7 separate regions of the Homo sapiens genome follow, and all the other regions are reported to be linked to region 1. The links are microRNA targets in miRTarBase. Many come from high-throughput screens and were not tested one by one. Region 1 holds a microRNA gene; each other region holds the end of a gene's coding sequence.
The links. The annotated mature microRNA hsa-miR-6884-5p reads AGAGGCUGAGAAGGUGAUGUUG and lies in region 1 at 2,127-2,148, opposite strand. An mRNA with a match to its seed (bases 2 to 7 or 8) in the 3' UTR can be bound and repressed. Matches are read on the target gene's strand: a 7mer-m8 pairs with bases 2 to 8, a 7mer-A1 pairs with bases 2 to 7 and ends in A, and an 8mer does both.

Region 2: the mRNA of PPM1L is a reported target of hsa-miR-6884-5p. The part of its 3' UTR that is shown has no 7-base or 8-base seed match.
Region 3: the mRNA of MRI1 is a reported target of hsa-miR-6884-5p. Seed matches in the 3' UTR shown: 7mer-m8 at 2,599-2,605, 7mer-m8 at 2,465-2,471 and 7mer-m8 at 1,950-1,956.
Region 4: the mRNA of TBCCD1 is a reported target of hsa-miR-6884-5p. The part of its 3' UTR that is shown has no 7-base or 8-base seed match.
Region 5: the mRNA of ACBD7 is a reported target of hsa-miR-6884-5p. Seed matches in the 3' UTR shown: 7mer-m8 at 1,442-1,448 and 7mer-m8 at 3,341-3,347.
Region 6: miRTarBase lists LRFN1 as a target of hsa-miR-6884-5p. Seed matches in the 3' UTR shown: 7mer-m8 at 927-933.
Region 7: miRTarBase lists PRXL2C as a target of hsa-miR-6884-5p. Seed matches in the 3' UTR shown: 7mer-m8 at 1,414-1,420, 7mer-m8 at 1,726-1,732, 7mer-m8 at 2,153-2,159 and 7mer-m8 at 2,288-2,294.

What each region holds. Positions count from the first base shown.
Region 1 is chr17:40,024,257-40,028,333 of GRCh38, forward strand. It overlaps MIR6884 (microRNA 6884), which reads right to left and starts at 2,153; the gene lies at 2,076-2,153. It overlaps MED24 (mediator complex subunit 24), which reads right to left. Exons shown (of 26, transcript NM_014815.4): 15 at 3,653-3,690; 16 at 3,127-3,209; 17 at 2,600-2,778; 18 at 2,391-2,490; 19 at 1,900-2,075. It overlaps SNORD124 (small nucleolar RNA, C/D box 124), which reads right to left and starts at 3,389; the gene lies at 3,286-3,389. RefSeq lists an enhancer at 2,391-3,301.
Region 2 is chr3:161,068,552-161,072,551 of GRCh38, reverse strand. It overlaps PPM1L (protein phosphatase, Mg2+/Mn2+ dependent 1L), which reads right to left. Exons shown (of 4, transcript NM_139245.4): 4 at 1-3,741. The coding sequence ends at 3,395. Among named protein-coding and RNA genes, the nearest start is that of B3GALNT1, 35 kb to the left of the region's middle. RefSeq lists an enhancer at 2,807-2,856.
Region 3 is chr19:13,771,653-13,775,729 of GRCh38, reverse strand. MRI1 (methylthioribose-1-phosphate isomerase 1) reads right to left here. Exons shown (of 6, transcript NM_001031727.4): 6 at 1,448-3,609. The coding sequence ends at 3,449. It overlaps C19orf53 (chromosome 19 open reading frame 53), which reads right to left and starts at 1,274. Exons shown (of 3, transcript NM_014047.3): 1 at 1,156-1,274; 2 at 1,023-1,078. The coding sequence starts at 1,252. RefSeq lists enhancers at 209-737, 738-1,267, 1,244-1,443, 1,514-1,583.
Region 4 is chr3:186,547,343-186,551,419 of GRCh38, forward strand. TBCCD1 (TBCC domain containing 1) reads right to left here. Exons shown (of 8, transcript NM_018138.5): 7 at 3,787-3,937. The coding sequence ends at 3,808. Among named protein-coding and RNA genes, the nearest start is that of CRYGS, 5.0 kb to the left of the region's middle.
Region 5 is chr10:15,075,139-15,079,215 of GRCh38, reverse strand. ACBD7 (acyl-CoA binding domain containing 7) reads left to right here. Exons shown (of 4, transcript NM_001039844.3): 2 at 176-293; 3 at 463-525; 4 at 613-3,741. The coding sequence ends at 686. ACBD7-DCLRE1CP1 (ACBD7-DCLRE1CP1 readthrough) reads left to right here. Exons shown (of 8, transcript NR_144471.1): 2 at 176-293. Among named protein-coding and RNA genes, the nearest start is that of ACBD7, 12 kb to the left of the region's middle.
Region 6 is chr19:39,304,339-39,308,415 of GRCh38, reverse strand. LRFN1 (leucine rich repeat and fibronectin type III domain containing 1) reads left to right here. Exons shown (of 5, transcript NM_020862.2): 5 at 1-1,850. The coding sequence ends at 783. Among named protein-coding and RNA genes, the nearest start is that of IFNL1, 10 kb to the right of the region's middle. RefSeq lists an enhancer at 88-589.
Region 7 is chr9:96,638,070-96,642,146 of GRCh38, reverse strand. PRXL2C (peroxiredoxin like 2C) reads left to right here. Exons shown (of 6, transcript NM_153698.2): 6 at 261-2,570. The coding sequence ends at 388. Among named protein-coding and RNA genes, the nearest start is that of PRXL2C, 15 kb to the left of the region's middle.

The DNA of each region.
Region 1 (4,077 bases):
GGTGCGGTGGCTCATGCCTATAATCCCAGCACTTCAGGAGGCTGAGGCGGGAAGATCACCTGAAATCAGGAGTTCGAGACCAGCCTGGCCAACATGGTGAAACCCCATCTCTACCAAAAATACAAAAATTAGCCGGGTGTGGTGGCACATGCCTGTAATCCCGGCTACTCGGGAGGCTGAGGCAGGAGAATCTCTTGAACCCAGGAGGCGGAGATTGCAGTGAGCCTAGATAGTGCCACAGCACTCCAGCCTGGGTGACAGAGCGAAACGCCGTCTCAAAAATAAGTACATAAATAAATAAATAAAGACATCCTCAACGTTGCCATAAAGACATGGCAACACCCAAAACGTATTAGCTGGTAAACACCCATGTTCACAGCAGCACTATTCACTATAGCCCAAAGGTGGAAGCAACTGAAGTGTCCACTGACAGAGGAGGGATCAAGATGTGGTATAGCCACACAATAGAGGTTTCTTTTGTTTTTGTTTTGTTTTTTGAGACAGAGTCTCACTCTTTCACCCAGGCTGGAGTGCAGTGGCGTGATCTCGGCTCACTGCAACCTCCGCTTCCTGGGTTCAAGCAATTCTCCTGTCTCAGCCTCCCAAGTAGCTGGGATTGCAGGCGCCTGCCACCACTCCCTGCTCATTTTTATATTTTTAGTAAGGCCAAGGTTTCACCATGTTGGTCAGGCTGGCCTTAAACTCCTGACCTCAAGTGAGCCACTCACCTCAGCCTCCCAAAGTGCTAGGATTGCAGGCGTGAGCCACCACGCCCGGCCCACAACAGAGTATTATTCAGCCTTAAAAAGGAAGGAATTCCTGTCACGTGCTACTACATGGATGAGCTTTGAGGACACCATGCTGAGTGAAGTCAGTGAGTCACGAAAAGGCAAGGACTGTATGATTCCAGTTAAATGAGGCATCTAAAAAGTAGTCAAATTCAGCAGGGCACGGTGGGTCACGCCTGTAATCCCAGCACTTTGGGAGACCACGGTGAGAGGATCACTCAAGGCCAGGAGTTCAAGACCTGGCAATATAGTGAGACCCTGTCTCTACAAAGACTAGAAAAATTAGCCGGCTGTGGGCCTGCAGTCCCAGCTACTCGGGAGGCTGAGGCGAGAGGATCACTTGAGCCCAGGAATTTGAGGTTGCAGTGAGACTCACTCTGATCTGGGCAAGGGTAAGACCTTGTCTCAACAACAACAACAACAAAAAGTATAAAGTAGTCAAATTCCTAGACACACAAAGTAAAATGGTAGTTACCAGGAGCTGGAGGGAGGGGAAAATAGGAAGCTGTTGTTCAGTGGGTATGGAGTTTCAGAGATGCAAGAAAGTTCTGGAGACCTGTTACACAACAGTGTGAATATACTTAACACTACTGAACAGTACACTTAAACATGGCTAAGATGGCAAATCTTATGTGTTTTTTACAATTAAAAAAAGCAAACAACTTATTGGTTGGGTGAATGAACTCAACGTAACTGGTCACCAGGGAAGTCCTCCAAGCCCCTGAAGAGCCAGGGCAGGAAACTGTCCTAAGAGGTAACTGAGGGTGGGGCATGGCCTGTAAAATCTACAGACAGGTTCCTAGCTCCTAGACAGTCACACAGCTTTGTTCTTTTGGGAGCTAGTTGTCTAGAACTTGAGTCTCTGCGGGCAGACCCTGTTTAGGGTCTGCATTTCTGACAACACAGCAGGTGCTGGCATATAAACGCTTCTGCCACAGAGACACAGTACATGTTTGCTGAGTCAGATGAGTGAATGCATGAATAGGAAAGTGAGTGAGTGATCAAGTAGCGTGTTTGCGAAGGTCAGAAAAGAGAGGGGTGCTTGTTATTGGATGTGCTGACTTCTCACAACACACTTGAAGGGTCTGAGAAGGGAAGGCAGGTTACCGACCTCTCATTGTAGAACTGCAGGGTGTTCTCACTAAACAGTGGCCCTGCCAGCTGGCGGATCATCTGCAGCGACTTCTCACGCTCATCCAGCCCCAGCATCCGGACGTGGGCCACAAGCCAAGCCACAGCACACACCGCCAGACTGCATACCTTCCCTTTGATGTTATCAGTGATTTTCTAGGGGAGACGGAAAGGTGATGGGCTACCATCTATCTCCCTTTCTTGAGCCAACATCACCTTCTCAGCCTCTGCGGGCAGCTAAGTGCAGCGGGTGGAGTCCCGGGCCACATTCCACACCTCTCTCCACAAGTTTGATCTTCCCAGAGCTACCTGGGCCAGAGGGAGTAGCTAAGACAACGATTACACAAAATATCAATATCAAAACATGAGCTCCTGGATTAAAGGTCTTCTTGCCCTTACGAAATATAACAAGTCATCACTGGCTGGCTCTGTGTCTCAGGGGAGCAAACGCTGCTGGGAAGGCGGGGCTACCTGGATGGACTCGAAGGCCAGGACCCCATTCTCCCAGGCATTGAGGATTTCCAAGATGGCGGCTGAGATGCTGAGACAGGCCTCATGCCACTTCATCTGCCTGCGGGTGTGCAGAGAAGTCAGCACAGGGGAGCAAGGAACGGGCTCAGGGAGCGGGTCTTGACCCTGCCCCCACCGCCACCCTTGGAGTGGGCGCCCGGGCCACTGACACTAGCTTCATCTCCGAGGAGTTGTTGAGCAGGGCCACCAGGGACTCCACTTTGGTGGAGTCGGGGCGGAAGCAGGGGTGGTCAGGGTTCAGGATCTTGCCCTCCTCAGGCATGCAGGTCTGCATCCAGGTCTCGAAGAAGGGCACCTCAGCTCCTGTGCGCGACTCGGACAGAATCACCTGGGAAAGGGGAAGGGGGGCACCAGCCGAGTGGGGAGGGCGCGGCGCCTGCCAGCGCTGGACCTGGGGCTGCACTGTTTCCCGCCAGGCTGCTGCTCCAGCCCAGCCCAAAGACTGGGGACGAACTGGTCTAAGGGAGCCAGACGGGGGCAATGCTGCCACCTAGTGGTCAATGTGAACATAGGGCTGAAGGTGCCTCTACGGACTCCAGCCCGGGTGGGCACCTGGTTTCTGAGGCCCACAGAACTAACTGGCTGAGAGGCTGCGGGGGCGCAGGCAGTGAGGTGGGGAGAGTTCCGGGTTACCTCCTTCCCTTGAGCCCCCGTCCCGGTCGCTCCCCTCTCTCACCTCTGAACCATAGGTCTGGGCCACATGGCACAGCATGAGGAAGGAGATGTCAAACAGCAGGGCCCGGACGGAGGCCGGTTTGGCTGTGGAAGGACGGGAAGGCTGAGCTCCCAGACGAGGGCAGGGGGGAGCCCGTGTCTGGGTTGACAGGGATCGGGATTTGCCTCTAGGAAGGTCAGGGACCAAGTGGCTCCTTCAAAGCTCTGAGGCTCAGAATCCTTTTCTTGAGTCTCAACTGGAACATCATCCCTTCCTTGAGACCAAAGACCCCCAGCACCCTCTCCTGGCATACCTAACCAAGTCGTAAAGGGATGAGGGGGGGAAGGAGACACAGGGATGGTCTGGGAAGAATCCTTTTCCAGCATTATCCACTTTCAAGCTCTGTGGAAGCTTCCATTGGTCATGGCTCTGAGGAGGGAGCACAGCCTCCCCCTGTTGAGCTGGGGAGCCCTCCTCCCTCCCACACTCTCCCGCCACACCCCTCCTCAGGGCCCACTGGGCCTGCGGATGCACAGGGCTGACTTACTGCTTTCTTCGCTGCCATAGGTTGTGAATTCATTCAAACTGAAAGGAATGGAGACAGGCTGCATTGACCAGGGCATGAGCTGAGCAGTAGCTGGGCGCTGGGGCTACACATGTTCAGAGAGCGATAGCTAGAGTCTGAGTTACTGGTTAAACTTAAAATGAGACACATTGCTATAGAAAAAAGGTTTTTGTGGTTTTTGTTTTTTGTTTTTTTTTTGTTTTTTTTGAGAAAGAGTCTCGCTCTGTCACCCAGGCTGGAGTGCAGTGGCACAATCTCAGCTCACTGCAACCTCCGCCTCTGTTCAAGCAATTCTTCTGCCTCAGTCTCCCAAGTAGCTGGGATTACAGGTGCCCGCCACCACACCCGGCTAATTTTTTGTATTTTTAGTAGAGACAGGGTTTCACCAAGTTGGCCAGGCCGGTCTT
Region 2 (4,000 bases), not on the chromosome of region 1:
CTTCAGATTCAATTGAAATGATGATGCCATCACTCTCATGCAATCCTGTTTGCCATTTACCCAAAATGATGTAATAATTACACTTGTATGAAATAAGGTCTGTTTTAAATTATCCAGCTTACATCCTTCACTATAACACTCTCTGTATAATATTCTTATGACATATACAAGATTCAAGAAGCCAATACCTCAGTCCACAGCAAGGAATAAAATGCAGCCACTGGTTACCAGTACTATGTACATATGTACACAGATATGTCACATTAGAACAGCAATTCAGAGTTAATTGCCTTGGGGCAAGTTGGTCATATAAAATAAATAATACAGGTCTTGGGAACAGCTTTGGAGCTTTCTATATGTGTTGTTTATTCCTATGATGAAAGAATTTTAGATACAATTAATTAAAAAAAATTTCCCTAGCTGTCCCTCCCCCAACCTATGTTAAGAGTACAAATTGCCAGTGGAGCAGCAGCAGAGCACTGCATTAATGGAGACCTGGGCCTGGCATCGTGCTGGGGTCTCAGAAGCACATGGCCATTCCTGTCTTCATTTCTAAAAGACTGTAAAACCATCCCAAAATTTGGCACCATGGGGACTATTGGCAATTCGAACTCGAGCTAGCTAGGGAGTCTAGGAAGCCTTGGGTGACAATTCCAAAGCTTTGGCAGTGCTGCTTAGGGAAGCTTCACATGCAAACATCTCAAATCAATTTCCCTAATGGCTAGATTCAGCATTCCCAGGTCCCTGGGGAGCAGCCAGTGTACCATAGGGCACCCCCAGGAGTGATGTCTGCACATCCCCAACAGCTGGAAAAGGGCTAGGGAGAGAGAGCTCCAGAAGGAAGGGAACAAAATACTCTGATTTTAGATATAACTATCCTAACAACTATTAATGAAACTGCTACAGTTTTGCCTAGAACTTCTATCTTTTGAAAATCTACAAGCCATAGTAGGGGGGAAAGAGGCAGTAATGGGAGTAGGATATATACACTCTATTTGGTTAACATCAGAAATGAATTAATTGTACAAAGCAAAATTTAGAAGACGCCTTGTGAACCTCAATTAGAGAGAAAGTTATGTAACTCGTGCACTCAGCACCATCTGTTAAGAAATTCTGCAGGGCACGTAACCACTGATTTACTAATTTAGTAGCTTTTCTTTTTCATCTTTATCAAAACACTGTTGCTTTCATTTTAGACAATAAAAATAACCGGAATTTAAAAATGTCTTTTCCTTGCTATTATACATTTTTGTGCTACGTTAAAAATAAAGAAAGTTGGCTATGGGCTGTAAAGTGCTGACACCATTGGTGCTGATTTCAGTTTGATGGTGGGTGGGGGCAACTCTTAGGAGTCAGAATGTCCTGAATTTCCAAGCAAACTCAGCCGCCTGGCCTGGCCATCTCAGCACTGCTCACAGCCAGCATTTGTTTTCCACATTCCCTTCCCTGTCCCCACCCCAAATATTAATACACACATCCACATATTCAGTGTCTCCCCATAGGCAAATGCTTAAATCTAAAATGGTGGCAGATATTTTTTACTAGAAGATTCTATGGCTAAAAAACAATAACCAAGGTTCTGTAATGCTGGAAAATACAGTATACAAAAGTAAGCAAATCTCATGGGAAATCATTAGCAATTCTCAGTGCAGTCAAAGAAAGTTAAGTGCTTGGAGAAATCAAGACAGATTGCAGCCCTCCACATCTACAAGGCAATTTCTTCACTCTCTCAAATTCTCTCCTGGACACTGCTTTGGGAAAACTCTACAGCAGCAGGAGGGGAGAGGGCAGGGTTCCACGGCGAGGAGGTGGCCGGTGAATGTGGCATATGGGAAGCTATAACCACAAATGCTCACAGGGAAAGAACAAAACCAGGTGGATACAGAGGGCTGGGAGGCAACGGAAGTTTCGTTTGGCTGTTTGAGTCACCTTAGGCAAAGAGAGTGACCCAGCATTTTCTCTAAATAATATAAAATACCAAGGTTGGAAAAATGATAAATTAGCGATACAGGAAATGGAGAGCAGCAAGCCAGGCCCCTAAATAATTCTGGCCCACTTATCAATATGGGTTCACGCTTGAATTCCTGACTTACTGTGTTGCAACTGCCAGGTCCCTTTGCTGCCTCCCCTGCAGGCCTGCAGGCCACGGGGCGGTTTGTATTTGCCTGGGGAAAGCTCCCTGATGTGGATGGAGATTTGCAACCAAATGTTGAAGACTGCTGCCTTTCCATTGTCAAGGAGAAGCTTATCCCAGTAGTTTCCCACCAAATCCCAAGCTGCAGTAGCTGGGAACTCTGCACCTGGCTTCAAGGAACACACATACAGTTATAGGCTGCTGCTTCTCAGAACACTGCCTGACACTTGAAAACCACTTGGAAAGGGGCAAGGAAAAACACAAAAACTGGCAGCTGGAGCTCAATTCAGGGTGGTAACCTCACCAGCTCACTCCTTTCTCAATGCAAACAGCTTACTTGCCAGGGAACACTGTGACTCATTCAGTATCATTTCCTTCATCTACTGTTGAAAATGGAAGGAATCATGGTATTGTGGCTTGCTTTTTTCATTTCCCCTAACGTGGTTTCTTGGTCACGTAAGATGAAAAATCAGGGTATCTGTTGGTGAATTTAACAGCTGCCTATTACATATGGTAAGGACTAAGCAAAAGGTTAACGGTCATGCATGATTAGGATAAATGCACAAAGGCTGGTCAGGTGGTATACAAAGTCTATTTAACTATTAAAGGAAGCAAGGGAAGAGGGTTATCTCTGCTGTGCAGGCAGTTGCCACTGGTCTCTCATTCTCTCTGCTTCTCGCAGTCCCCAAGAGCAGCCAAAATAGTAAACCATTCCAAATCTGCTTCCAAGCTGCTACTGAGCAGAAAACATGGGCTCAGAAGGACAAAGCATTCTCAGGACAGCTCTGTCTCTTGGCAGAGGGTGTTGCCACATCAGCCCCTGACCACTCACAGGTGACGCAGTGGCCTGTCTCCTGCAGCACTGGGTGGTCTGTCCTGTCCACTGTTACAAAGAGAGGACACAACAGCTGATGCCTGGAGGACCCTGAACAGGATCTTGAAAAGAATCTTCAGGGAGACTAAATGACACATATGCTATTCACTTCATATATGTGACTCTACAGCTATTTACTTATATATTTTGGACACTGGATGAAAGAGTTGGGAAAACATGAAGAAACCATTTTCCAGTTTCTTAACTACATTGGCCAAGGGCACCCTCTGTTCGTCACTGATTATAGACCTAAGACCACCAGGGAGGGGGGATTCCATGTCTGGGGTGGATGATCCTAATTACAACTCCCACACTTTTCACTAAATTAAAAGAGACCAGTGTGTTGAAAGTCCTTTAGTCTAAGGCAGCTGAGACCCCTGAAGGGTTCACTGCTCTTCTGTTTTGCTGCTATTTCTGAACTTCACCACCATGACTGTTATATTGTCAGGGCAGCCTCTGTAAAATGACTGTAAAACTATGCTCTTGGCCCCAAAGTGAGGTTCATCCAAGCGCTCCTTGATGAATCGAACTGCTTCTTCATTGCTGAAAGCATCCCAGAGACCATCTGATGCCAAGATCATGAACTCAGGCTGAAGCTTGTCCAGGTCAAAGGTCAGGATGTCTGGGTCTGGGATGACCACGTTGAGATTTTTCAGCGGATAATCCCCCAGGGACCGAGACATGGCCAGGATTCCCTGGACCCTCCAGGAGCCATTGAAACTGATGAAACCACCTAGAAAGACAGGATGAGCCCATTAGTTTGACCAGCTGATATCTCACTTACCTGGGATAGTCTAGGTACGTGCGCAACAGGGTGACCTACTTCATGTGAACTGGGCTGTGGGCACTCCCCTTAACCCCATCACTCCTGGGACCCACTGCATGGCCTGGGGTTTTATACTCTACCAGTTGATCCTCATACCCTCATCCTGGCATCTTGAAGGATTTCAATAATATATCAATAAGAGTACTGAAGGTGGCGGATACATATG
Region 3 (4,077 bases), not on the chromosome of region 1:
CAATTTGCTCAAGATCACAGGGCTGTTTACTGTGGAGTACAATTCAAACCCAGGTTTGACTCCCACCAAAACCAGTTTTAAATCTCCTTCCAACTTCTTTACAAGCTCAACCTTACCCATCTACATATAAATGTTGCACTTAAAAACAACCATAGGGTGGCTCACGCCTGTAATCCCAGCATTTTGGGAGGCAGAGGCGGGAGGATGCCTTGAGGCCAGGAGTTCAAGACCAGCCCGAGCAGCATAGTGAAACCTGTCTCTACCAAAAATACAAAAAAAATAAAATTAGCCGCGTATTGGCGAGCACCTGCAATTCTACCTACTCGAGAGGCTGAGACGGAAAGATTGCCTAAGTCCAGGAGGCTGAGGCTGCAGTGAGCTATAATGGGGCCACTGCACTCCAGCCTGGGCAACAGTGAGACCCTGACTCAAAAAAAAATGACGATAACCAACGCACCCTCACACTTCTTTGAGCCCTCTGCTGTTCTAGGTTTACAAAGCTGGGCTTTCAATTCCCTTCCCATGTCACCTCGCTGTCTTCCTGAGTTCAATTAAAGAAAACAGTAACAGCAAGAGGCTGACGTTATTGGAACCCTTTTTGGGCCGCAGGTCTTGCTTCTACGAGGCCCTTTTGAAGTGGTAAGTGGTGTTCCTGCACCCCTTGCACAAGGAAGAAAAGGGAGGCCCACAGAGCTGGGAGTCCTCCAGGCCTCATCCCTTGCCCTTTGCCGATCCCTGTGCTCCTTCCCTCGCCGGCCTCCAGATTTCATCTCTCGTCCCTAGCACGTCCCCCAGCCCCTATCCCTCGCCAGCTTCCACCTCTTACCCCTCTCTGCGCCCCGGGCTCCATCCTTCGCTCCTAACGCGGCCCCTGGCTCTATCCCCTCGCTCCTAGCTCGTCCCCAGGATCCACCCTCTCCCCTCACTGATCCCCGGGCTCCACCCATCCCCCCTCGCCGTCCTCCGGGTTCCACCCCTCGCTACTCGCCGCCCTCCGGGCTCCATCTCTCGCCCCCGCACACCTTCTTGAGCTTTTGCTGCTGCACGACGCGCGCCTTCTTGGGAGCGATAACACGACCTGGGGAAAGATGTGCTCACGTGAGGCCGGGAAGCCGGGGGTCCACCTCGCCCCCAAGTCCCCGGGCCGCTCCTTACCGCCTTTTCTTGGGCCCCGATTCTTTTCAGAGGCTGCCGCTGCCGTCTTACTCTTTGCGGGTTTGTGCGCCTGAAACTTGCGCTGCCCCTGCGCCATGGTCCGGCACGCAGCGGAAGAGGCGGGACTGTGAGCAGTCGTAGCCGGAAGGCACAGGGAACCATGGGATACAGCGGGGCGGAAAAACGCAAGAACTCACGGGATACAACGTGGCACAGAGTTAAAGAGACAGCATCCCACAAGGGTAGTGTAGTGGATCACAGTTGGAGTTTTCAAACATTACGAACAAAACGGTGACAATGATAAGCTAACGTTTATTGAGAGCTTATGTGTTTTAGAAAACTTACAACGTTTTATGATCTTTACACATAAAAACTCAGACTAGGTTAGGGTGTGGCACTCACCTCTGGTACAGAATTTAAGAAGGTTCAAAAACTTTGGTAATAGTAAACAATATTTTCAAGACTTAAAAAATATTTTAATATCCAAAATAATCAAATTGTTAAACTACATCCTGCAGACCGGCAGCATAATTTTGTAAATAAAGTTTTAGTGGAACCAGGGTGTTGAGGTCAGTAAGCTCAAGGCACAAGTGCGGGGTTCTAGCCTCTTCAAAATTTTATTTAGGCCGGGCACGGTGGCTCACGCTTGTAATCCCAGCACTTTCGGAGGCCGCGGGGCGCGGATCACCCGAGGTCAGGAGTTGGAGACCAGCCACGACTAACATGGTGTCTCCAATAAAAATACAAAAATTAGCCAGGCATAGTGCCAGGCTCCTGTAATCCCAGCTACTCGGGAGGCTGAGGCAGGAGAGTCGCTTGAACCCAGAAGGCGGAGGTTGCAGTGAGCTGAGATGGCACCACTGTACTCCAGCCTGGGCGACAGAGCGAGACCCCGTCTCAAACAAATACTTGTTTTGTTCATCATGGATTTTTTTTTTTTTTTAAAGAGATGGGGTCTCACTCTGTTGCTTAGGGTGAAGTGCAGTAGTGCAATCAAAGCACACTGCATCCTTGAACTCCTGGGCTCAAGCCATCCTCCCACTTCAGCCTGAGTAGCTGGGGCTAGAGGTGTGAGTTCCATGCCCAGCTCATTGTTTTTAAATTTTTGTTTGTAGAGACAAGCTCTTCCTATGTTACCCAAACTGGTCTCAAACACCTGGGCTCAAGGGATCCTCCCAAAGTGCTGGAATTACAGGCATGAGCCACCAAGCCTGGCCTCATCATGGATTTTTGCATTAATTTTGATTTTTAAAAAATACTGCTGTAAGGTCAGGCACAGTGGCTCATGCCTGTAGTCCCAGCACTTTGGGAGGCTGAGGCAGGGGGATCATTTGAGTCAGGAGTTCGAGACCAGCCTGGCCAACATGGTGAAATCATGTCTCTACTAAAAATAGAAAAATTAGCTGGGCATGGTGGCGCATGCCTGTAATCCCAGCTACTCAGGAGGCTGTGGCAGGAGAATCGCTTGAACCGGGGAGGCACAGGTTTCAGTGAGCTGAGATCTCGCCTCTACATTCCAGCCTGGGTAACGAGTGATACTTGATCTCAAAAAAAAAAAACCCAAAACAAAATATTGCTTTAAAATATTTTTTATCTTGGTTGCTGAGCTTTTTTGGTGTCCTCTTAAAATTCTGCCCTGGAGATGTCACCCTAGCTCCAGCCCTGACCTTAAGAGGGAGGTACTAGTATTATCCACATTTATTTTTTATTTTTTTAATTAAATAATTAATTAATTATATTTATTTTTGAGACGGAGTCTCGCTCTGTTGCCCAGGCTGGAGTGCAGTGGCGCTATCTCGGCTCACTGCAAGCTCTGCCTCCCAGTTTCACGCCATTCTCCTGCCTCAGCCTCCCAAGTAGCTGGGACTGCAGGTGCCCACCACCACACCCGGCTAATTTTTTGTATTTTTAGTAGAGATGGGGTTTCACCATGTTAGCCAGGATGGTCTCAATCTCCTGATCTTGTGATCCACCTGCCTCGGCCTCCCAAAGTGCTGGGATTACAGGTGTGAGCCACTGCGCCCGGCCTGTTATCCACATTTTATAAATGAGGAAACCAAGGCACAGAGAGGTGAAGTGACTTGCCCAAGATCATACAGTGGGAAAAGTGGCGGAGTCAGGATTTGAATCTGGGCAGCCTGGCTCTAGGTGCTGGGCTCTAGATGGAAGGCCCTGTCTGAGCTCCCTGCACTAGGAACAAGTGTGGTCAGGGGCTGGACGGTCAGCTTTTGGGTAGCCATTCAAGAAATGTATTGAAAAACCTAGAGAGGCAGGCTAGGGAGAGCTGAGTTGGTTACATCTGGGGTCCATCTAGGGTTCCATCCCTGGAAGAGATGGTGGTGGTTAGGGCTGTCCGGAGCTCCTCAGGGGCAAAGACCCCCAGTTCTGTGATGATGCCACCAGTGATGAGGTCGTGGGGGGTGACATCGAAGGCAGGATTCCAAACTCCAATCCCTGCAGGGGAGAGAGGGGAGGCAAGGAGGCAAGAATTTGCTTCTGTGAAAGTTCTCAGGTTGTAGTCATCTGTTTCTACCACAGTGGTTCTTGGAGTTGGGGAGTCCTTGAGAACCTGAGGATTCTCACCCCAAAAGTACATGCAGGCATGGACATTGTACTCAATAGTAAGTTTAGACTCGCCACTGCCCCTAGAATGTCAGTCCCCAAGAAAAATTCAAAGTCCTATACACATCTATGCCACTTATTTTTTTATTTTTTGTGAGATGTAGTTTTGCTCTTGTTGCCCAGGCTGGAGTGCAATGGCACGATCTTGGTTCACTGCAACCTCCACCTCCCAGGTTTCAAGCAATTCTCCTGCCTCAGCCTCCCGAGTAGCTGGGATTACAGGCATGCACCACCATGCCCAGCCAGTATTTTTAGTAGAGACGAGGTTTTTCCATGTTGGTCAGGCTGGTCTCAAACTCC
Region 4 (4,077 bases), not on the chromosome of region 1:
GAACTTCTGGGCTCAAGAGATCCTCCAGTCTGTGTCCAGAGTAGCTGGGATTACAGGCATGTGCCACCATGCTCAGCTAATTTTTAATTTTTTTGTAGAGACAGGGTCTCATTATATTGCCCAGGCTGGTCTCAAACTCCTGGCCTCAAGTGATCCTCTCACCTCAGCCTCCCAAAGTGCTGGGATTAGAGACATAGGCCACTGCGCTCAGCCAAATTGCTAATTCTTAATTCTCAGCATTTATTAATAAATATTGCTAAATTCTTTTTTTTTTTTTTTTTTAAGACGGAGTCTCGCTCTGTCGCCCAGGCTGGAGTGCAGTGGGGTGCTCTCGGCTCACTGCAAGCTTCGCCTCCAAGGTTCACGCCATTCTCCTGCCTCAGCCTCCTGAGTAGCTGGGACTACAGGCACCTGCCACCACGCCCGGCTAATTTTTTGTATTTTTTAGTAGAGACAGGGTTTCACTGTATTAGCCAGGATGGTCTTGATCTCCTGACCTCGTGATCCACCCGTCTCGGCCTCCCGAAGTGCTGGGATTACAGGCATGCTAAATTCTTTAAAAAAAAATACACCCTTAAGAAATGTAAATATTTAAAGCAAAAAATACACTTTTACAGCTTTGGAAAACTGCAATTCCTTTAAAAGTTAAATATATTCCTCACAATTCCGCTTCTAGGTATATATCCATGAGAAATAAAAACAAATGTCTACACAAAAACTTGTACACAAATGTACACAGCAGCATTACTCACAACAGCTGAAAAGTAGACACAAGCCAAATGTCCATCAACTGATCAACAGATAAACAAAATGGTAGATCCACACGATGGAATATTATCTGGCCATGAAAAAGAATGCAGTACTGATACATGGCTACATGGATGAATCTTGAAAACACTACACTAACTGAAAGAACCCAGACACAAGAAGCCACATGTTATATGATTCCATTTACATAAAATGTCCAAAATGGACAAAGTAGATTAGTGGTGCCAAGGACTAAGGGGAAGAGGAAATGTAGGGGTTGGAGGAATAAGGAGTGGCCTACAATGTGTACGAGCTTTATTTTGAAGGTGATGAAAATGTTCTAGATTTTTTAGTGGTGATAGTTGCACAAACTTCTGAATATACTTAAAAGCTACTGAATTCTTTACTTTAAAAAGGTGAATTTACTTCCCATAATGTTATGTGGTAATATTTTATCTCAATAAAATTTTTAAGAAGTTTTCTCCCACCCTAGACACCCAATCTCATTCCTCAAAGACAAACACTGTTTATAATTTCTTTATATTCTTTCAAAGATTGTTAGGCATATAATTAGCATATAAATACACTGCATTTGGGGTGTTTCTAGTCCACAGTTTTTTTAAACAATGCCACATCAAACATCTTCAGTTACAAAATTTCGGTTAGCTAAGAGGAATACATTGAAGAGATCTAATGTACAACATGGTGACTGTTGTTAATAACAATACTGTGTGATCTTGAAAAAAACAAAGAGAGTAGATTTTAAGTGTTCTCACTGCAAAAATGACAACTATGTGAGGTTCTAATGTTAACTAGCTTGATTTGGCCATTCCACATGCATATATATTTCAAAACATCATGCTGGAAATGATAAATATATACAATTCATCTGTCAATTTAAAAATTAAATAAATAGGCCAGAAGCAGTCGCTCATGCCTGTAATCCCAGCACTTTGGGAGGCCAAGGTGGGCAGATCACCTGAGGTCAGGAGTTCAAGACCAGCCTGGGCCATCATGGTGAAACCTCGTCTCTACTAAAAATACAAAAATTAGCCGGGTGCGGTGGCCGGTTCCTGTAATCTCAGCTACTCAGGAGGCTGAGACAGGAGAATCACTTGAACCTGGGAAGTGACGGTTGCAGTGAGCCGAGACCGCACCACTGCACTCCAGTTTGGGGGACAGAGTGAGACTCCATCTCAAAAATAAATAAATAAATTAATTAATTAATTAATTGATCCCTACATACATGAGTTTATCTGTAAGATAAATTCTATTAATAATAAGTGAAACTGCTAAATCAGGGCAGGTGCAGTAGCTCATGCCTGTAATCCCAGCACTTTGGGAGGCCGAGGCAGGAGGAACGCTTTAAGCCAGGAGTTTAAGACCAGCCTGGACAACAAAGTGAGACCCTGTCTCTAAAGAAAAATAAAAAGATCAATTGGGTGTGATAGCATGCACCTGCAGTCCCAGCTGAGACAGGATTGCTTGAGCGCAGGAGTTGGAGGCTGCAGTGAGCTATGATTGTGCCACTGCACTTTAGCCTGTAAGAGAATTAGACCTCATCTCTAGAAAAAGAAAAAAGAAATCGCTGAGTCAGAGAAAATTTGTATTTTTAATTTTGATTTTGTCAAACTGCCCCCCACAGAGGTTACATATACACTTTCCTAGTGGTAAACGAAATGTTTTGCCAGTATTGTGTACTACCAGCTTTTGCTCTTTGCCAGTCTAATAAAAAATAGTATTTTACATTTCTTTAATTTTAAGTAAGCATTTTTGTGTCTCTAAGTATTTTTCTGTGAACTATCTATTATTGTCCTTTGTCTGTTTTCTATTGCTAGCATTTAAAAATACTTTAGGCCAGTTCCGGTGGCTCACGTCTGTAATCCCAACACTTTGGGAAGCCGAGGTGGGCGATGTTCAGGAGTTTAGGAGTTCAAGATCAGCCCAGCCAACATGGTGAAACTAAGTCTCTACTAAACATACAAAAATTAGCTGGGCACGGTGGTGCGTGCCTGTAATCTCAGCTACTTGGTAGGCTGAGGCAGGAGAATTGCTTGAACCGGGGGAGCGGAGCTTGCAGTGAACTGAGATTGTGCCACTGCAACTCCAGCCTAGGTGACAGAGGGAGACTCTGCCTCAAAAAAAAAAAAAAAAAAAACTTTAAACTAACACAGTATACTAATCTCTATTAAAAAAGAATACCATACGTTTGGGGCTGGGCGCAGTGGTTTATGCCTGTACTCCCATCACTTTGGGAAGCCAAGGCAAGTGGATCACCTGAGGTCAGGAGTTTTGAGACCAGCCTGGCCAACATGGTGAAACCCAGCCTCTACTACAAATACAAAAATTAGCCAGCTGTGGTGGTGCATGCCTGTTTTCCCAGCTACTCCGGAGACTGAGGTGCGAGAATCACTTGAACCCAGGAGGCGGAAGCTGCAGTGAGCTGAGATGGCGCCACTGCACTCCAGCCTGGGCGAGAGACAGAGACTCAGTCTCAAAAAAAAAAAAAAGAATACCATATGTCTGGATTAAATTTACTTCCAGTAAATTTGTTTGTATGCATATTCTCTTCTATTTAATCCATGATCTTCTAGTGTTCAGTAATCAAATCTTCATTTGGATTAATTCTGGTAATTTATTACTGCTAATATGTGTAATTAGCAAAGATCAGCTAATTTGTAAATTGGTTTTTGTGAGGGGAATGGATAAGAGGAAAGGTTTAGAAAAGGAGAATAAAACTTAGAACTATGTATGGGGGAATGTGGTATCTTTGGACAGTACAACTTGTCCCAGGCAAAAAGCAAAATAAGACAAAATTTGGCCATTATATTGGCCCCAAATTCTATAGGCTCCATCTGAATATTTTGGTTGGTTTTCTCACTATAAAATATGGTAAATATGGGTACATAAAGGTCCGTGTATGCTGGTAGGAGCGGTAGAAAAAATTTGGGCATGTTTAGTATATAATATTCTGTGCCTTTTTTTTATGCTTGAAAGATTTCCCCAAAAGAATCTGTTTTAAGTGGTATAAATGCCTACCAGTGTCTGCATGTAAGATCCTTATCCAGCTGCTTGTTTGGAGCCTGCTGCAGGGGGTACAAGGCTGTCCAGCTGTTGGCGATGTCCTGTATTAATCAACCATTCATAAAACTTGTTCTCTACCAGTACCTGGAACTGCTTCCTTTGATCCCTAAAATTGCGATTATGAGTAAAAAGAATATAAGAACATGAATTCATATAAATTGTACTCTAAGCAATTATACAATATTTTAATAGGATAATGTTAAATGATTAATTATTTCTTGTTATCCTTTTGTTCTCACTGTTCAG
Region 5 (4,077 bases), not on the chromosome of region 1:
AGGTAAGTCCCAGGAGAGGTGAACTCCTAGGAATTCAAGTAAATTAAGATGATTCTGATAGAACCAGAGCAGCAGAAGTTCATTTCTACTTGGAACCTTCCTCTTCCTGCTCTTTGAGTTCCTATTCCTTGGTGGTAAAATGCTCCTTTTGTTTGTTTGTTTGTTCTTCCTTTAGGCTGATTTTGACAGGGCTGCAGAAGATGTGAGGAAGCTGAAAGCAAGACCAGATGATGGAGAACTGAAAGAACTCTATGGGCTTTACAAACAAGCAATAGTTGGAGACATTAATATTGGTATTATATATTATTAATATTAATATATTCATATGTTACAATTAATATATTAATTGCGATTATAATATATAATTACTTAAAATATAGTAATATACTCCGTTTGAACAATGTCTATAGAAGTGCACAGTAAAATGTTAACCTGCAAATGCATGTCTCCTTCTTTTGCCAGCGTGTCCAGGAATGCTAGATTTAAAAGGCAAAGCCAAATGGGAAGCATGGAACCTCAAAAAAGGTTTTTTAGTCTTTCACAAGTTTAAAGCAAACTTTCTTAATTTCCCAGTGCACCAATCAGGGAGATAACCTGTTTGTATCTTTCTAGGGTTGTCGACGGAAGATGCGACGAGTGCCTATATTTCTAAAGCAAAGGAGCTGATAGAAAAATACGGAATTTAGAATACAGCATATGAGGAATTTTTCCTTTTGAAGACTTCCAAATGCTATCATGACCTAACATTTAGAGGGAGAGGCATACTGTTAACTTGATGTATCATGTATATTTTTGCTATTAGCATGAGCTGTAGTACTTAGAAGTATACTGAAACTACATAGTTAACTCAATTGTACTTGCTTAAACCAGGTGTCTTTAAAAGTTCTTTTTAAGAAAATGTGGCACATATACACCATGGAATACTATGGAGCCATAAAAAGGGATGAGTTCATGTCCTTTGCAGGGACATGGATGAAGCTGGAAACCATCATTCTCAGCAAACTATCACAAGATCAGAAAACCAAGCATGTTCTCACTCATAAGTGGGAGTTGAACAATGAGAACACATGGACACAGGGAAGGGAACATCACACACTGGGGCCTGTCGGGGACTAGGGGGTTAGGGGAGGGATAACATTAGGAGACATACCTGATGTAGGTGACCGGTTGATGGGTACAGCAAACCACCATGGCACATGTATACCTATGTAACAAAACTGCACGTTCTGCATATGTATCCCAGAACTTAAAGTATAAAAAAAAAAATTCTTTTAGAAAAGTATTTTTTATTTTTATAGAGTTAGGGAGTACAGTTGCAGTTTTTGTTTGTTTGTTTGTTTTTTCTTGAGGAGTCTCACTCTGTCACCCAGGCTGGAGTGCAGTCGTGTGATCTCGGTTCACTGCAACCTCCGCCTCCTGGGTTCAAGTGATTCTCTTGCCTCAGCCTCCCGAGTAGCTGGGATTACAGGTGCTTGCCACCATGGCTGGCTAATTTTTGTATTTTTAGTAGAGACGGGGTTTTGCCATGTTGGCCAGGCTGGTCTCGAACTCCTGACCTCAGGTGATCTGCCCACCTTGGCGCTGGGGTTGCAGGTGTGAGCCACCACACCTGGTCACAGGTGCAGTTTTGTTACATGGATATATTGTGTAGTGGGGAAATCTGGGCTTTTAGTGTAACCATCACCAAAATACTGTACATTGTACCCAAAAGGTAATTGCTCATCCCTCACCCCCTCCCACCTTTCCAAGCCTCCAGTGTCTATTATTCCACACTCCATGACCCTGTATACACCCTGTTTAACTCCCACTTATAAGTGAAAACATGTGGTATTTTTTTTTGTTTCTGAGGGTTCTTTAAAAATCTTTATTTTCTTATTTTTTTCTGAGTTGTTTCACTTAAGATAATAGCCTCCAGTTCCACCCACGTTGCTGCAAAAGCCGTAATTTCATTCTCTTTATATGGCTGAGTAATATCCCCTGGTATACATATACAACGTTTTCTTTATCCCATCATCTGCTGATGGATACTTAGGTTGATTCCATATCTTTGCTCTTGTGAATTGTGCTGCAATAGATATACAAGTGCAGGTATCTTTTGGATAGAATGATTTATTTTCCTTTAAGAAGATACCCAGTAGTGGGATTGCTGGGTAGAATGGTAGTTCTATTTTTAGTTCCATGAGAAATTTCCGTGCTGTTTTTCATAGAGGTTGTACTAATTTACATTCCCACCAATAGTGTATAAGCATTCCCTTTTCTCCACATCTGTTGTTTTTTGACTTTTTAGAAAGTCTAGCCCTGGTAATATGTGTACAGATTTGAACAGCTGTTTGTTCTTTTGGCTCATCTGTTCTGTTACAATAAGTTAATGTTACTGGTGAAATAAAAACAGGTTATTAAGAATCAATGGCAAGGCTGAGCGTGGTGGCTCACGCCTCTAATCTCAGCACTTTGGGAGGCCGAGGTAGGTGGATTACTGAGGTCAGAAGTTCGAGACCAGCCTGACCAACATTGCAAAACCCCATCTCTACTAAAAATACAAAAATTAGCCAGCCATTGGTGGTGCACACCTGTAATTCCAGCTACTTGGGAGGCTGAGGCAGGAGAATTGCTTTTACCCAGGAGATGGAGGTTGCAGTGAGCCAAGATCACACCACTGCACTCCAGCCTGGGCGACAAAACAAGACTCCGTCTCAAAAAAAAAAAAAAAAATTACAAGTCTGTCCATAGCAGTTTAAAGAAATTTAAAAAGCCCCCATAGGAATATCTATTTTTCTTTAAATTTTTACATTTAAGACATTTAAGACAAAAAGGCAAACTAAAATGTATCTAGTGATAAACTGTACCACTACTGTACCCCATATGTTCAGTTCTATCTGAGTAAAAATAGAGTCTGGAATATAATATTGGCCCCCTACTCAGTCTTTCTGGATGGTACACAGGCTCTTTGAAAGAAGACAGTCTCATGTTAACAATTCAAAAAATTGTTTGAGATCCCTTAAGATAAATATCCCCCAAAACAGTGTACCTCTATTCCCTGCATAAAAATTTAGATTTGGAATGGTATGACCAGAGGAATAGATCCACTTCATGTTACTACAACAACAAAACTATCTAGGTCTGCTAGATGAATTTCCAGGGAATTATGCTGAGCAGAAAAAGCCAGTCCCCAAATGTGACATGTATAATTCCATTTATATAACATTCTTTTTCTTTTCTTTTTTTTTTTTTTTTTTTTTGTTGAGACAGGCTGTCACTCTGTTACCCAGGCTGGAGCGCAGTGGCACGCTCTCGGCTCACTGCAACCTCTGCCTCCCAGGGTCAAGCAATCCTCCCATCTCAGCCTCCAGAGTAGCTGGGACTACAGGTGCGTGCAACCATGCCCAGCTAATTTTTGTATTTTTCATAGAGACAGGGTTTCACCATGTTGCCCAGGCTGGTCTGGAACTCCTGATCTGAGGTGATCTACCCACCTTGGCCCCCCAAAGTGCTGAGACTATAGGCATGAGCCACCGCGTCCAGCCAGGATTCTTGAAAGGGAACATTTATAGACGCAAAGGATGGAATAGTGGTTGCCAGGGAGGAGGGAGGTGGGTGTGGCTTTAAAAGGGCAGCAGGAGGGATGATCCTGCAGTGATGGAATGTTCTGTCTTGATTGTAGCAACACCAATATGCTGATTGTGATATTATACTATAGTTTTGCATAACAGTTACCATTAAAGGAAATTGGGTAAAAGGCTACACAAATCTCTCTGTATTATTTCTTACAAATAAAAGGGAATCTGCAGTTACCTCAAAAAGTTTACTTTTAAAAATCGAGGTTGATTTCTCATCGGGAAAATTTTGGCAATCAAGATAATTCTCATCTTTCTAAATTTCGCCTAATGATAGACGTCTTCCACGATGATACCAAGGCCTAATTCCTTCAAAGAGAAGACATCATCAATGATAGACTTGGTGTCTTACAGTTGAGGGCTTGAAAACTCCTGAAAGTTGTTCCCATGTGGACTTTACCTCCACCAGGTAGAGATGCAGGGGAAAAAGCTTACCCCCAAAGCCTGGCATTTGTTCCATCAT
Region 6 (4,077 bases), not on the chromosome of region 1:
TGTGTACAGTTCACCACCGCTGGGGATCCGGCGCCCTGCCGCCCGCTGAGGGCCCATTTCTTGGGCGGCACCATGATCATCGCCATCGGGGGCGTCATCGTCGCCTCGGTCCTCGTCTTCATCGTTCTGCTCATGATCCGCTATAAGGTGTATGGCGACGGGGACAGCCGCCGCGTCAAGGGCTCCAGGTCGCTCCCGCGGGTCAGCCACGTGTGCTCGCAGACCAACGGCGCAGGCACAGGCGCGGCACAGGCCCCGGCCCTGCCGGCCCAGGACCACTACGAGGCGCTGCGCGAGGTGGAGTCCCAGGCTGCCCCCGCCGTCGCCGTCGAGGCCAAGGCCATGGAGGCCGAGACGGCATCCGCGGAGCCGGAGGTGGTCCTTGGACGTTCTCTGGGCGGCTCGGCCACCTCGCTGTGCCTGCTGCCATCCGAGGAAACTTCCGGGGAGGAGTCTCGGGCCGCGGTGGGCCCTCGAAGGAGCCGATCCGGCGCCCTGGAGCCACCAACCTCGGCGCCCCCTACTCTAGCTCTAGTTCCTGGGGGAGCCGCGGCCCGGCCGAGGCCGCAGCAGCGCTATTCGTTCGACGGGGACTACGGGGCACTATTCCAGAGCCACAGTTACCCGCGCCGCGCCCGGCGGACAAAGCGCCACCGGTCCACGCCGCACCTGGACGGGGCTGGAGGGGGCGCGGCCGGGGAGGATGGAGACCTGGGGCTGGGCTCCGCCAGGGCGTGCCTGGCTTTCACCAGCACCGAGTGGATGCTGGAGAGTACCGTGTGAGCGGCGGGCGGGCGCCGGGACGCCTGGGTGCCGCAGACCAAACGCCCAGCCGCACGGACGCTGGGGCGGGACTGGGAGAAAGCGCAGCGCCAAGACATTGGACCAGAGTGGAGACGCGCCCTTGTCCCCGGGAGGGGGCGGGGCAGCCTCGGGCTGCGGCTCGAGGCCACGCCCCCGTGCCCAGGGCGGGGTTCGGGGACCGGCTGCCGGCCTCCCTTCCCCTATGGACTCCTCGACCCCCCTCCTACCCCTCCCCTCGCGCGCTCGCGGACCTCGCTGGAGCCGGTGCCTTACACAGCGAAGCGCGGGGAGGGGCAGGGCCCCCTGACACTGCAGCACTGAGACACGAGCCCCCTCCCCCAGCCCGTCACCCGGGGCCGGGGCGAGGGGCCCATTTCTTGTATCTGGCTGGACTAGATCCTATTCTGTCCCGCGGCGGCCTCCAAAGCCTCCCACCCCACCCCACGCACATTCCTGGTCCGGTCGGGTCTGGCTTGGGGTCCCCCTTTCTCTGTTTCCCTCGTTTGTCTCTATCCCGCCCTCTTGTCGTCTCTCTGTAGTGCCTGTCTTTCCCTATTTGCCTCTCCTTTCTCTCTGTCCTGTCGTCTCTTGTCCCTCGGCCCTCCCTGGTTTTGTCTAGTCTCCCTGTCTCTCCTGATTTCTTCTCTTTACTCATTCTCCCGGGCAGGTCCCACTGGAAGGACCAGACTCTCCCAAATAAATCCCCACACGAACAAAATCCAAAACCAAATCCCCCTCCCTACCGGAGCCGGGACCCTCCGCCGCAGCAGAATTAAACTTTTTTCTGTGTCTGAGGCCCTGCTGACCTGTGTGTGTGTCTGTATGTGTGTCCGCGTGTAGTGTGTGTGTGTGTGTGTGTGTGTGTGTGTGTGTGTGTGTGTTGGGGGAGGGTGACCTAGATTGCAGCATAAGGACTCTAAGTGAGACTGAAGGAAGATGGGAAGATGACTAACTGGGGCCGGAGGAGACTGGCAGACAGGCTTTTATCCTCTGAGAGACTTAGAGGTGGGGAATAATCACAAAAATAAAATGATCATAATAGCTAACGCTTAGTGAATACTTACTTACTATGTGCCAAGCACTTAAGTCATTTAATTCTCACAACACCAGGACATATCGGTATTATTATCCTGTTTTCCAGATGAGGGAATTTTGGCCCAGAAAAGTTAAATAACTGGCCCAAGGTGGTAAAACTGGGATTTAAAAAGGCAGGCAGGCCAACTTCTGAGTCTCTACTATAGGGGTGAAAAGACAGCTTCCCCTTCACTCTCTGAAATTTCACTGGAATGGGCTGACAATAGATTAACAAGAGAAAAGGAATATGGAGGGTATTTAACATGCACTAGGAAAATCACAGGAAAGTGATTACCCAATAACCCAGTGAGGTTTATATACTTATATACCTTTCTTCACAGGAGGGGAGATGGGGAAAGGAAGGCAATTTTGAGGGGTAATAAATGATTTTGGGGAAAATAAATGGGTCCAGGAGATAGAATTTAGCTTGTAAATGTCTCTGGAATTTGAGACTGACAGACAGATAATTTCTTGTGACAAAGTCCGTCCAGGTGTAGACATTTCTCTGTCTTTTTTTCCTGTTAAAGATAATGAAATGTCAGGGAGAGGACAGAAGGCACTTGTGTTCTTTTTGATCTTTAGGCAGATAAGAAGACATAGGAGGAAAGCCTCTTCCAGCATCTATGGATCTCTAAGTGCCTTTAATTTAAAATAATCAGCATACCAGGGTGCCATATTTTGGGGTGACATTCCCTGAACTCCTTTAATACTCAACTAGAGCACTGTACTGCTGAGCAGTTATTGAATATTCATTCCACCCTCTGAGACCTCACAACTCAGTGGGGTAGGGTAGATCTATCCTTGGTCCCATTTTACAGACAAGAACCTGAACCACAGAGAGATGAAGTCACTTGCCGTAGTCCCTCCATCCCCCCAATGAATAAATAGCGGAGCTGGAAGTTTGATTGTACCCCTACACTATGCTGCCTCTGGGGTCTGTGTCCGGAAGCTGGGGTATGGCCCCCATGAGCTTAGCTGAGCTTGGATATCCACAGCTAGCCTGGTGAGCTCAGGGACAAGACCTCTTGTGTCGCTCTGCCTGGAATCTGAGGGACCCTGGCGGAGGGCATGGAGGATGGTGTGGGGAGAGGAGTTTCTCAGGTGAGGCTGAGGGCTGTGGCTGGGGAAGGAAAGCTGGTTGGGGAGAGGAGAGGGACAGACATCCCAGTCCTTGCAGGGGCCCTGCAGTGATAACACCTTCCTGATCTTGGGGAAGAAGGAGGAAGGCTTCTTGCCAGCCAGGGGCCCCCTGAGGCCAGGGGAGGAGGAGAGAAAGACAGAAATAGAAACGGAGCAGGAGGGAGGGGGATGGATCTAGGCAGACAGGGTGGGAGGCTGCTAGGACAGAGGCACCAGAGAATCACAGGCCAGGAGGCTTCCTCACCCAGGAGCCCAACCACCCTCATTTGTGTCAGTCATGACGACTCCTAGGTACTGAGGGCTTTTCACAAGCCAGGCACAGTGCTCCCAAACCCTCCCTGATGCACGGATAAAGAGCATGCAACCCAGTGCATGGCACATAATGCTTAGGAAATGGAGTTACTCCAATAATAAGTATGACTGCATTTAAAGCCTGCACAGGTATATGCAGTGTGTGCACACAATTTTCAAGATGAGGAAACTGAAGCTCAGAGAGGTTAAGGAGCATCTCCAAGATCACACAGCCAGTTAACAGCAGAGCCATGATTGGAAAGCTGACTGCCTCCAACCTGCACACAGAACCATCAGGAATCTTGTCTCTAATTCACTTGATAAAGCATTATTGAGCATGTATTATGTAACTGGTCCTATGTAGGGGCTATCGCAGTGAACAAAATAGATGAAACAAAACAAGAAAGCCCTGCTCCGTGGTGCCTATATTCTAGAGGGAGGAGAAATAAACAAATAAGCAATTAAATGAGTCCAGGAGGTTGAGGCTGCAATGAGCCCTGATTGCACCACTGCACTCCAGCCTGTGTGGCAGAGTGAGACCCAAAAAACAAGCAAACAAAAACGAGTAAATAATGCATGTCCAGTGGCAAATAAATGTTGTGCCAAGAATGAAAACAGGATGATGGCATAGAGAATGACTTTGAGGCCTACTTTAGGTGGGAGGGTGAAGGATGGTGATGACAGAGCTAAATAAATGCATTGTGAGAAAAGCAGGGAAAAGCATTCCTGGCAAAGGGAACAGCATGTGCAAAGACCCTTAGGAAGTAG
Region 7 (4,077 bases), not on the chromosome of region 1:
CAGAAGGTTATAATTTAAAAATCTTTCCCCTTGGATCTCATAAAACATCAAGTATGGCTCTTATTTAACCATAATCCTTGTCATACTTTATTACCATGATTTAAAATTATTATGGCATTATATAGAGAATATAATGCACTCCAGGTAATTAATTTTTCCCTTTGGACTAATTAAAGGTTGAAAAGCTTCCTTGATTTTAGTAAGCAGTAAATCTGATGAATAATACTATGCCTCAGCCTTTTATTCTTATTCTCTTCTAGGTAACAACATCCATTTTATACACCGCGATAGGAATAGGTTGGATCACAAACCTATCAACTCTGTTTTACAGCTTGTAGGAGTTCAGCATGTGAACTTTACAAACAGACCTTCAGTTATCCATGTGTGACTTAAAATGCACTCAGTCACTTTCAACTGGACCTTCTGGAATGTGACCTTCAATGCCTGGGTGTAATATCCTCGTGCAGTGTCTAACCTGCTGTCCCTTCCCAGCCTTTGAGGAGTTAGGGAAGCATAAAGGGGGCTTGAACCTGTTGAATTGCATGCTGGGAAGCATCAGTTGTCAAAATATGTTATATACTTCCATTTTATAACTTTTAACATTTTATACAAAAAAAATGAATATACAAAATATAACTTTAAAAGCTATAAAATCATAAATACTCTAAATTATTTTACATTATGGTATATTCAGTCAATGAAAGAGTTTTTTGGCAATATAAATTCTGACAGTATATAAGGGGACAGGAGAACAACACAAGACCATTATATTCAGTGAAGAAGGCAAAATATCAAATCTGTCAACAATGTAACTGCATTTTTATATGTATATATTTGTATTTTTGTATGCTTTGGAAAAAGACAGGAAATAAACACCAAAATGTTGCCAGTAGGTATCTCTGTGTTAAGATTAGTGTTATTATTTTCTTTTCTGTACTTTTCTGTATTTCCCAACTGTTATATAATGAGCATGATTAATATTGTAGGGCCAGGAAAAGGTCTTTAAACATTATAGGACAATTTTATGCCACATAACAACCTTCACAAAAGAGCAAAATTATATAAGCTGTAGTCCACTTTTCCATCGTAATTGCTTTACTCAGAGGAAGTGTGGCAATCCGAACATTTCACATATAGCCAGTGTCCACAGCACCTTCTCAAACTACATACTTGCTATCCGTTTCACTAGGATTTTGGGGGGTTGGGGGAGCTATGGAGAAAAAAATTGTTTTAGATATTTAAGATATGTATTTAAAAATATGGTCAGTGTGCTTTTTGAAAGGGAACTATAAGAATTTTTTTTTTTTTTTTTTTTGAGATGGAGTCTCACTCTGTTGCCCAGGCTGGAGTGCAGTGGCATGATCTCGGCTCACTGCAAGTTCCGCCTCCCGGGTTCACGCCATTCTCCTGCCTCAGCCTCCCGAGTAGCTGGGACTACAGGCACCCACCACCACGCCCGGCTAATTTTTTGTATTTTTATTAGAGACGGGGTTTCACTGTGTTATAACAGCCAGGATGGTCTTGACCTCCTGACCTCATGATCCGCCCACCTCGGCCTCCCAATGTGTTGGGATTACAGGTATGAGCCACCTTGCCTGGCTTTTTTTTTTTTTTTTTTTTTTTTTTTTTTGAGATGGAGTCTTGCTCTGTCGCCCAGGCTGGAGTGCAATGGCTCAATCTCAGCTCACTGCAACTTCCGCCTCCTTGGTTCAAGCAATTCTGCCTCAGCCTCCCAAGTAGCTGGGATTACAGGCACCCGCCACCATACCTGGCTACTTTTAGTAGAGACGGGGTTCCACCATGTTGGCCAGGCTGGTCTCGAACTCCATACCTCAGGTGATCCGTCTGCCTCGGCCTCCCAAAGTGCTAGAATTGCAGGCGTTAGCCACCATTCCCGGCCAAGAATTGTTAAAATTTTTTAAAACTTGGTAACTTAAATGTACACTATGGTTTAGTTATGCATTCCTAGAGAACTGCTATTTCTCACCCTCAAACTGCTCTTATTTGGGAGACTTGTTATCTTTCATTTTTCTAGAATTTTTTTTTTTTTTTTGAGACGGAGTTTCACTCTTGTTGCACAGGATGGAGTGCAATGGCACGATCTCGGCTCACTGCAACCTCCACCTCCCGGGTTCAAGTGATTCTCCTGCCTCAGCCTCCTGAGTAGCTGAGATTACAGGCATGCGCCACCATGCCTGGCTAAGTTTCTATTTTTTAGTAAAGATGGAGTTTCTCCATGTCGGTCAGGCTGGTCTCGAACTCCCGACCTCAGGTGATCTGCCTGCCTCAGCCTCCCAAAGTGCTAGGATTATAGGCATGAGCCACCGCGCCCGGCCTATTTTTCTAGAATCTTAATATGTTTAGTTGGGAGGTGTCCCAGAAATCCTGATGAAAAGTATAGCAAAATCAGAATTTTGGTAATGATTAGCAAGTATAATACTGCTTTGAACTCAGTACTTTTATATGAAGCATATAAAGTTACAAAAAAAACTAATGTATTCAAATATTTGAATATATCTTCATGTTTGTATAATGTTTTTATTCAATAAAAATGAAATTTCTCATTTAAACTATTTTGTGCTTTTTTTATATACTAAAGGTGACCTTTGCTGATTTTAGACTTCATACTGCTGAATCACATGCTTACACAAAAATTATATACAGTTGACCCTTGAACAACATAGGTTCTACACGGGTCCAGTTATATGTAGATTTTTTTTTCAATTGAAGTTATACCAAGTGTGGGCCGGGTACGGTGGCTCACGCCTGTAATCCCAGCACTTTGGGAGGCCGAGGCTGGCGGATCACGAGGTCAGGAGACGGAGACCATCCTGGCTAACGCGGTGAAACCCCCGTCTCTACTGAAAATACAAAAAATTAGCGGGACGTGGTGGAGGGCGCCTGTAATCCCAGCTGCTCCGGAGGCTGAGGCAGGAGAATGGCGTGAACCCGTGAACCCGGGAGGCGGAGCTTGCAGGGAGCCGAGATGGTGCCACTGCACTCCAGCCTGGGAGACAGTTATACCAAGTGTGCCTGGCTCCCCTGTCACCTCTTCCGCCTCTGCCTCACTTGAGACAGCAAAACCAACCCCTCCTCCTCCTCCTCCTGCTCCTTAGCCTACTCCAGGTGAAGATGAGAATGAAGACCTTTTTTTTTTTCCTTTCTCAGCACATCGTGTCCACTACCAAGAAGGAATTATAAGGCATATGAAAAGACAAAAAACAATTTGAAAAGACAGAACGAGCACTAGAACCAGATTCAGATATTGCAAGAATGTTGGAATTAATCAGACCAATTTTTTTTTAAACTATGATTAATGTGCTCAAGACTTTAAAGGAGAAACACAACATCCAAGAACAAATGAGTAATGTAAGCAGAGAGATGGAAAGTCTAAGAATCAAAAGAAATGCTAGAAGTTAACAACATTGGAATAGAAATGAAGAATGCCTTTGATGGGATTATTAGTAGACTGGATGTGGCTGAGGAAATAATCTCTGAGCTTGAGGATATGACACTAGAAACTGAAAAGCAAAGGCAAAAAATACAAAACAAAATCCAAGAACTGAGAGACAACTACAAAAGACATAACATGAATCATGGGAAATCATAAGAAAGAAACTAACAGAAGAAATATTAGAAGCAATAAAGACTGAAAATTTCCCCAAGTTAATGTCAAACATCAGACTGTAGATTCAAGAAATTCAGAAAACAGCAAGCATAGTAAATGCCAAAAAAAAAGACACCTAGGCATATCGTAGTCAAACTTCAGAAAATCAAAGATAAAAAATCTTGGCTGGGCGCAGTGGCTCACACCTGTAATCCCAGCACTTTGGGAGGCCAAGGCAGGCAGATCACTTGAGGTCAGGAGTTCGAGCCCAGCCTGGCCAACATGGTAAAACCACATTTCTACTAAAAATACAAAAATTAGCTGGGTGTGGTGGCACATGCCTGTAATTCCAGCACTTTGGGAGGCTGAGGCGAACAGATCACCTGAGGTCAGGGGTGATCAGCTTGGCCAGCTTGGCCAACATGGTGAAACCCCATCTCTATCAAAAATACAAAACTTAGTTGGGCACG